2 separate regions of the Homo sapiens genome follow, and region 1 is linked to region 2. The links come from fine-mapping of genetic effects on gene expression. A gene starts in region 2. The other region holds a variant in brackets. All regions are shown on one strand. Distances are between the middles of the regions.

Region 1 (4,260 bases), 34 kb before region 2:
AGAAAAGATTAAATGCCAATATACAAACACAACAAAGAAGCACATGCAAACACAACCTAATATATCATATTCAAATTGCTGAAAACCAAAGATAAAGAGAAAATATTGAAGGCATCTAGAGGAAAAAGGCACACTCCCTACAGAGGAACAAAGAATTACAGAAGACTTCTCATCAGAAATTATATAACCAGAAGATAATAGAGTCATATCTTTAAAATGCTGAAAGACAAAAAACTGCCAATCCAGAATTCTATACCTAGCAAATACATCTTTCAAACATGAAGGAAATACACTTTTTCAGATCAAAAAAAAAAAAAGAGAGAGAGAAAATTCATTACCAGTGGACGTTCTGTAAGCAGAAGAAATATGATACCTGAGAGAAACTTGGATCTACATAAAGAAATGATGATCTCTGGAAACAGATAGAATAAAGGTAAATATAAGAGACATTGTTTCTCATTTTTACTCACTTTAAAAGGTAACTGCTTTACTAAAGCAATGCATTGTGGCCTCATAGCATATATAAAAGTGAAATGTATGACAATAACAACAGTAAAAATGAGGAGATGGAGGAATGGGAAATATGCTGTTAAAGGGTCCTTATGATATATAAGAAGTGGTATAACATTATTTGAAGATAGACTGATTAAAGATATAGTAAATTCAATAGCAACCACTAAAAAAATTTTTTTAGAGAGGTGTAAGTAACAAGCCAATAATAGAAAATGGAATCATAAAAATGCTGGAATAGGTAACTATGTGAGATGATGGATATGTTCGTTTGCTTCACTATAGTAATCACTTTACTATATCTATGTATTCCATAACATCATGTTGTATACCTTAAACATATACAATAAAATTTATTTTTTAAAATGACTGTTGAACATGAAAACAAGTACATATAATAATTTTTTCTAATGTTGGGAGGCTTCCTCCCTAGGCCACTTGTGTCCAACGTGTCTTGCTGAGTATGTCAAGATCACAAGGCCCAGACCTCTCTTTCACCTGGGTCCTTGTTCAGGATTGTTAGTACAGCTAGAGTTTTGAGAGGTGAGATCATTTCTCAGACCAAGGCAGGCTTGCTTACTGCTTGCTATAAAAATGTCCTGGGACCAGGCGTGGTGGCTCATGCTTGTAATCCCAGCACTTTGAGAGGCTGAGGCAGGAGGATCACTTGAGTCCAGGAATTCGAGAGCAGCCTAAGCAACACAGTGAGACCCTGTCTCAAATAAATTAATTAATTAATAAAATAAAATAAAATAAAAAGTGCTGGGCCTAGGTCCCTCAGCTACAATGCAAACCCACTGTGTGAATACCATGCATCTGGGCTCACTGCATCATCTGTTGAATGTAGGACCAGGGGAACCAATACAACTATGCTGATGTTCACACTGTTTGTTGTGCTATGAATAATAAACTATTTCAATCAGATGCAATACATCTTGTCTACTTGCAGCACCCATGAGATTGGGAGTTTTCCTTTTCGAAACATAATCCAAATCAAGGAAGAAAAAAGAAAAAAAGCACAGATGAAAGATTAGAAAACAAATAACAAGGTGATAGATTTTAATCCAGTGTATCAGTAAAAAGACAATCAATTAAAAGACAAATTAGCAGATTGGGAGCAAAGTAAGAGGCAATAATATGTTGTCCACAAGACCCACTTTAAATATAAAGAAATATATGGGTTAAAAGTAAAAGGATGTGTAGAGGAATTGGATCCCTAAAAAAAAAATGAATGGAGTAAGACACACCATACAAACATGAAACCAAGCAAGTTGGAGTGACAGTATTAATATCAGACAAAGTAGATTTAAGAAGGACTATTACCAGGGAGGAAAAGTGGTATTATTTAATAATAAAAGGTTCAATTCACCAAGAAGACTTAACAGTCATAAGAGTGTATATACTAACAACAGAGCTTCAAAAATATATGAAGTAAAAACCAGTAGACCTGAAATAAGAAACAGAAAAAATCTATATTGCACCTAGATAATTCAACCCTTCTCTCTCAATAATCAATAAAATAAGTACACCAAAAAAGCAAGGATATAGAAAACCTTAACACTATCATTAATTTCTCCTAATTATATTCATGACACTTTACCCACCAACAGCAGAATAAACATTCTTTTCAACTGCACATACAACATTCA[A/G]TGAGAGATTCATCATATTCTGGGCAACAAAAACAATCCTCAACAAATTTAGAAGAATTTAAATTATGTTGTATGACCATAACAGAATTAAATAGAAATAATAACAGAAAGATAACTGAAAAACAATCCCAATACTTCAAAATAAAACATGAGTCAAAGATGAAGTCCAAGGGATATTAGAAAATACATGGCTGGGTACACTGGCTCAGGCCTGTAATCCTAGCACTTTGGGAGGCTGAGGCAGGTGGATCGCTTGACCTTGAATTTGAGACCAGCCTGGGCAACATGACAAAACCTCGTCTCTACAAAAAATATAAAAATTAGCTGGGCATGGTGGCTCATGCCTGTATTCCCAGCTATTTGGAGGCCTGAGGTAGGAGGATAACTTGATCCTGGGAAGTGGAGGTTGCAGTGAGCTGAGATGCCACCACCGCACTCCAGCCTGGGCAACTGAGCAAGACCCTGTCTCAAAAAAAAAAAAAAAAAAAAAAAAAGTGTTGAACCAGGCACAGGAGCTTATGCCTGTAGTCTCAGCATTTTGGGAGACTAGCTGGGAGGATCGCTTGAGCCCACAAGTTTGAGACCAGCCTGGGCAACATTGGCAGAAACTTCATCTCTACAAAATATACAAAAATTAGCCAGGCATGGTGGTGCATGCCTGTAGTCCCAGCTACTCATGAGGCTGAGGCAAGAAAATCGCTTGAGCCTGGGAGGTCAAGGCTGCAGTGAACCGAGATCACACCACGGCACTGTAGCCCAGGTAACAGAGTGAAACCCCATCTCAAAAAAATAATAAAATAGGCCGGGTGTGGTGGCTCACGCCTGTAATCTCAGCACTTTGGGAGGCCGAGGCGGGCGGATCACTTGAGGTCAGGAGTTCAAGACCAGCCTGGCCAACATGGTGAAACCCCGTCTCTACTAAAAATACAAAAATTAGCTGGGCGTGGTGGTGGGTGCCTCTAATCCCAGCTACTTGGGAGGCTGAGGCACAAGAATCACTTGAATCCAGGAGGCGGAGGTTGCAGTGAGCCTAGATCATGCCACTGCATTCCAGCCTGGGTGATAGAGCGAGACTCAGTCGAAGAAGAAGAAGAAGAAAGAAGAAGAGGAGGAGGAAGACGAAGAAAAAAGAAGAGAGAAGAAGAAAAAAGAAAGAAGAAGAAACAGCCAGGTGCAGTGGCTCATGCCTGTAATTCCAACACTTTGGGAGGCTGAGATGGGTGGATCACTTGAGGTCAGAAGTTCGAGACCAGCCTGGCCAACATGGTGAAACCCCGTCTCTACTAAAAATACCAAAATCAGCCAGACATGGTAGCATGCATCTGTAATCCCAGCTACTTGGGAGGCTGATGCAGGAGAATCACTTGAACTTGGGAGGCGGAGTTTGCAGTGAGCCGAGATCACGCCATTGTACTCCAGCCTGGGCAACGGAGCGAGACTCTAAAACAAAAAAAAGGAAAAAGAAAAAAAGAAAAACATATTGGATGGAATAAAATGGAAATTTTTGTGGCCACAGTCAGCCACAAAACACCTCCCAATGTTCCTTACCACCTATCATGTACATCCGGGCAGTCCTCTCCTACACTGTACCAAGGTTATGTCACGGGATCCTTTGGGTGTCACTTGGTCAGTGCAAAACCTCTGTGGCTGGTGGTGCCTCTGCTGGAGTTTTGCTTGTGCCCACTCGTTCTGCCCACTCACCTGGCAGGCTGTGCTTGGCTAGTGCAGCCCGGATCCCATGCCTACCAAGGGTAAGCCAGGCATGGAGTGGTGGGGGGGTGTGTGAGCAAGCGTGAGGTCCAGTCACCACACAGAGCCAGGCACACAAGCTGCCGCAGCCACGTGAGCAGCTCCAGGCACTGGCACAGGCACCAGCTCCATGCAAGGCTCTGGCTGGACCAGACCTACCCCAAGCGACCTCTGCTATAGGCACCAGCGTCTGGACCAGGGGAACGCAGTGGCACCTGAAAGCTCTGAGACACCAGGAACTGCAGAGCCCCAAAGAGGGTGTTACAGCATGTCACAGCCCTGCCTCAGGGAGCCCCGAGATCTGGGCCCCCAGAAGGGCTGCAGCTCTTCTCTCTTTCTCATCACCGGCAGC
Region 2 (4,260 bases):
AATAGGTGCTTTCATAGACATCCATTATGGGATTTCATTTGTTTCTCACAGCAGGTGGAAAGGGATTATTCTCATTTTACAAAGGAGGACGTAAAAACTCAGACAAGTTAAGTTGCCCAAAGTAATAAACAACAAGAGTAAAGTCTAGAACAGCGTTCAGCTGACTATGGCTCCATAGGCCTGGCATCTGCTCCTGTACATAAGGTTTTATTGAAACACAGCCACACCTATTCACTTATATATTTGTCTATAGCAGCCTTCTGTGCTACAATGGCAGAGCTGAATAATTGTGACCTAAAATCCTTACTACTTCACCCTTAAAGGAAAGGTTTGCTGATCCCTAGGCTAGAACTCAGGTTGTGTGCATCATATGGCTCTTCAACAAAGCCTGGCATTCCCACAGCTCTTCCCAGGAGCATAGAGTCTCCTACGAGACTACAACTAGGCATATGGTGGGTGTGCAACCTCCACTATCCAACACAATACTATCAAATGCCAAACATCTGCACCACACTTTCAGCTGACAAAGAAAGGTCTTTGACATACATAATCTCATATTATCCCTAAAAAAACCTCACAAAGCCATTCTTCTTCTTTTAATTCTTATCACTTTTTGGATAATAACTTGCCCAAGGGCTAACACAGAGAACAAGCAGCAGGAGCAAGGACTCCATCCCAGGTCTCCTGGCTTTAAGAACTGTGCTCGGCCGGGCGCGGTGGCTCACGCCTGTAATCCCAGCACTTTGGGAGGCCGAGGCAGGCGGATCACGAGGTCAGGAGATCGAGACCATCCCGGCTAAAACGGTGAAACCCCGTCTCTACTAAAAATACAAAAAATTAGCCGGGCGTAGTGGCGGGCGCCTGTAGTCCCAGCTACTTGGGAGGCTGAGGCAGGAGAATGGCGTGAACCCGGGAGGCGGAGCTTGCAGTGAGCCGAGATCCTGCCACTGCACTCCAGCCTGGGCGACAGAGGGAGACTCCGTCTCAAAAAAAAAAAAAAAAAAAAAAAAGAACTGTGCTCATCACCACGCCACAGCTGCCTCTTAGATGTAACAACTTATAGGCCTCCTTTACACTTTACAAAGTACCTTCTTATTCCTAAACCCCTCTGGGCCTTGTAACATTTTGTTGAGGGCAACATGGTAGGAGCATCCGGCCCACTTTTCAGAAAAGGCTCAGAAAGGGGAAGCAACTTGCCCAAGGTCCCACAGCTAGTTTTATATGTTTAGGCCTAGACTGAACCCTTGCTTTTCTGAACCCAAAGCACATGCTCTTTATATTGCAGTCCACGACCTCTCTGCAACTAGTCTCATGGTTTTGAAGACAGGAAAACAAGTTCACAGAGGTGACATTTGCCCCAGGTCACACAGCTAGTAAGTGGATCTTAAACGGACGCCTGTCTGACCCCAAAGTCCAGGCAGTTTCCACTGTACCCGCACGAATGCTCTTTTATCCACCCCTCTCTCCGATGTGGCACCTGAGAACCTAGCTCAGAGAAATCAAGTCACTTTCCCAGAGTATCAGAAAGGAAATGTATCAGAGTTGCCTGGAACACAGACGTGTTTATTGTATTAACATCCAGGCCCTTTTCTTTGTACTAATCAGCCTCTGCTGTCATTCCATTTTATGGATGAGGCAGCTGAGGCTCAGAAAGGTGAAATCCCTTTCCCAGGGCTACAAAGAAAGAAGGTGACCCAGCCACGTCTACAGCACAGTAGTGATGGACCACAAAGCCTACTCGGGGAGGCCGAGACCCCACCCGCCCCAGTCCGGGGACCCTACCTCGGCGTCGAACATCTGGTCCAGCGAGGGGCTGCTTCGCACTAGCCCGTCCACCAGCGCCAGCCACAGGCCCAGCGAGCCGTAATACACGGTCTGCATGAGGACGATCTGCGACAGGATCAGCAGCGGGTCCCACACGTAGCTGCGGAACTGACCCGCCATGCCCTGCAGGGACACGAGCCGGGCCTCAGCCAGCGGCCTGTCTCCATGGCAACGTCGCCCCGCCCGGGAGGAGGGACTGGAACCAAGGGGTGAGCCCATTCCAAGAGTCAGGGGGAAGGCGGGGCAGACAGACCCATTCTCAGAGTGAGGGGAAATCCAGCCCATTCCGCCTGCGCGGCCCCCGCCCGTACACGAGCTCCTCTGGGGTCTACTCACCAGTGACAGACTCGACGATCGAAGTGTCTGAGCGTGGCCCGGCCTCACCGGCGGGCTCCCAAAACAGCGCTGACAGACAGGACCATGGAGGAGAGGCGCTGCCGGCCTAGAGAGGCAAAGCTCCAGCGACCACGGCGGCAGGAGCGGCTGCGTAGGAAAGAAACGTTTCCGGGGAAAGCAGCGGAGGGGCGGGGCTGAGGTTGCGCAGGCGTAGTGGGTGCAACCTCTGCCTGAACCTCCTGAACCAGGTACAAGCAGCCGGATAGCGAACTGAGCACATGCGCAGAAGGAAGAGTGAAGGCAAACGGAAGAGAGGAACGAAGGCCGCAGAGCTTGCGCGCCCTCTAGAGGGGAATTCTTTTTTTAAAGGAAGGCGGCTAGGGGAGAGGCAAGTGGGGTGGCTTAGGACGCGGTAATGATGTTTGGGAATTAACGAGGTGATAAACTGTGTCGTTATTTTCAGCCTAAATTCTCAATGTTTTCTCCTAGTTAGAGTCTGATAACTTGAAGTGGACCTGCAAGCTCCTCCACGTAGGAGTTTGCCAATGTTCCCGCTGTACAGATAGTTAAGCTAAGGGCCAGAGAAGGAAAGCAACATACTGTTTCAACGACACAGTTAGTAGCAAAGTAAGTATTAAAATTCAAGTGTTGGTCGGGCGCGGTGGCTCACGCCTGTAATCCCAGCACTTTGGGAGGCTGAGGTGGGCGGATTACCTGAGGTCGGTGTTTCGAGACCAGCCTGACCAACATGGAGAAACCCCGTCTCTGCTAAAAATACAAAATTAGCGGGGCGTGGTGGCGCACGCCTGTAGTCCTAGCTACTCGGGAGGCTGAGCCAGGAGAATTGCTTGAACCCGGGAGGCAGAGGTTGCAGTGAGCCGAGATCACGCCATTGCACTCCAGCCTGGGCAACAAGAGCAAAACTCCGTCTCTAAATAAATAAATAAATAAATAAATAAATAAATAAAATTCAAGTGTTTCCTCAACACTACAACATTGATTTCGCACCTACTCGGTGGCAGGAAGGCTAGAACATGTATATATAAGACAGCCCCTGCCCTGAGACACAGATGAACTATATTAGAAGGCAGAGTAGTGGGTGTTTTAAAATGTGGGTGTCCAGTGGAAAAAGGCACAGGTTCTGAAGTCGCACATAGGAGTAAATCCTGACCCTCTCTGCTGCCATGACTGTTTTATCTATCTTCCAAATCCGAATAGTGGACAGTCAGTAAATATTTGCTGAATGAGTTAAGAACAGAAAAAGCAAGAGCAAATCGATAACTCACTTATTCCTACTCCAGCAGACGAAAACCCATCAACTTCATTGATCCTAGGTTCCCCCTCTCTGAAGTGGAAAGACGGGAAGTAAGTTGTTCCAGGAAAAGAATTTGGGTTTTAGGGCCAGCTATGCCACCCAGTGTGACCAGCAAGCCACTTCCTTCTTTAAACCTCAGCTTCCCTGTTTATGAAATGAGGAGTTGGACATGATTAACGTTTTCCACCATTTAATCTACCTTCCAGTAATTATTTTCTCATTAAAAAAAAAACTTAGGCTGGGCACAGTGGCTCATGCCTGTAATCCCAGCACTTTGGGAGGCTGAGGCGGGCAGATCACAAGGTCAGGAGTTCAAGACCATCCTGGCTAACATGGTGAAACCCCATCTCTATTAAAAATACAGAAAATTAGCCGGGCCTGGTGGCAGGCGCATGTAGTCCCAGCTACTCGGGAGGCTGAGACAGGAGAATGGCGTGAACCTGGGAGGCGAAGCTTGCAGTGAGCCGAGATTGCGCCACTGCAGTCCAGCCTGGGCGACAGAGCGAGACTCCGTCTCAAAAAAAAAAAAAAAAAAACGTATCAAAGAGCCATGTAACTGCCAATCAGAATTTCTGAACAGCTTGTGGTAGCCGTGTTATCACCTTGAGCTGATACAATTCCAGACAAAAGTAAAGAAACTTGAGACTTTATTGAGAGTGTGCGATTGTCCTTATCATTTGGAAATACCCTGAACAGTTCCCCTGGACTCCAGTTGGGGAGTTATTAAGGCCCAAAGATTTCTTAGGTGCTTTCCAGCTCAACCATTCTTTTAGGCACCTCAATTC

Which allele goes with the higher level. Positions count from the first base shown, and alleles are read on the strand shown. Sizes are in standard deviations (SD) of each study's normalised expression.
With allele G in place of A in region 1, the expression in monocytes after interferon gamma of the gene that starts at base 2,320 in region 2 is higher (large effect, 0.84 SD a copy in Fairfax 2014).

What was found. PIP is the estimated chance that this variant, and not a neighbour inherited with it, causes the effect.
Region 1: its variant is the best candidate, but not a certain one, in a credible set for the expression of SYS1 in monocytes after interferon gamma (Fairfax 2014, PIP 0.59).

Annotation. Positions count from the first base shown.
Region 1 is chr20:45,394,952-45,399,211 of GRCh38, reverse strand. All of the region lies in intron 3 of SYS1-DBNDD2 (SYS1-DBNDD2 readthrough (NMD candidate)), which reads right to left. It overlaps LOC107985404 (a long non-coding RNA gene), which reads left to right. Exons shown (of 5, transcript XR_007067608.1): 4 at 1-433. Among named protein-coding and RNA genes, the nearest start is that of DBNDD2, 11 kb to the left of the region's middle. The variant A/G (reference allele first, on the strand shown) is at 2,160.
Region 2 is chr20:45,361,216-45,365,475 of GRCh38, reverse strand. SYS1 (SYS1 golgi trafficking protein) reads right to left here and starts at 2,320. Exons shown (of 4, transcript NM_033542.4): 1 at 2,161-2,320; 2 at 1,783-1,947. The coding sequence starts at 1,944. SYS1-DBNDD2 (SYS1-DBNDD2 readthrough (NMD candidate)) reads right to left here and starts at 2,307. Exons shown (of 6, transcript NR_003189.2): 1 at 2,161-2,307; 2 at 1,783-1,947. It overlaps LOC124904914 (a long non-coding RNA gene), which reads left to right and starts at 2,108. Exons shown (of 2, transcript XR_007067609.1): 1 at 2,108-2,408; 2 at 2,650-3,120. RefSeq lists an enhancer at 2,151-2,590.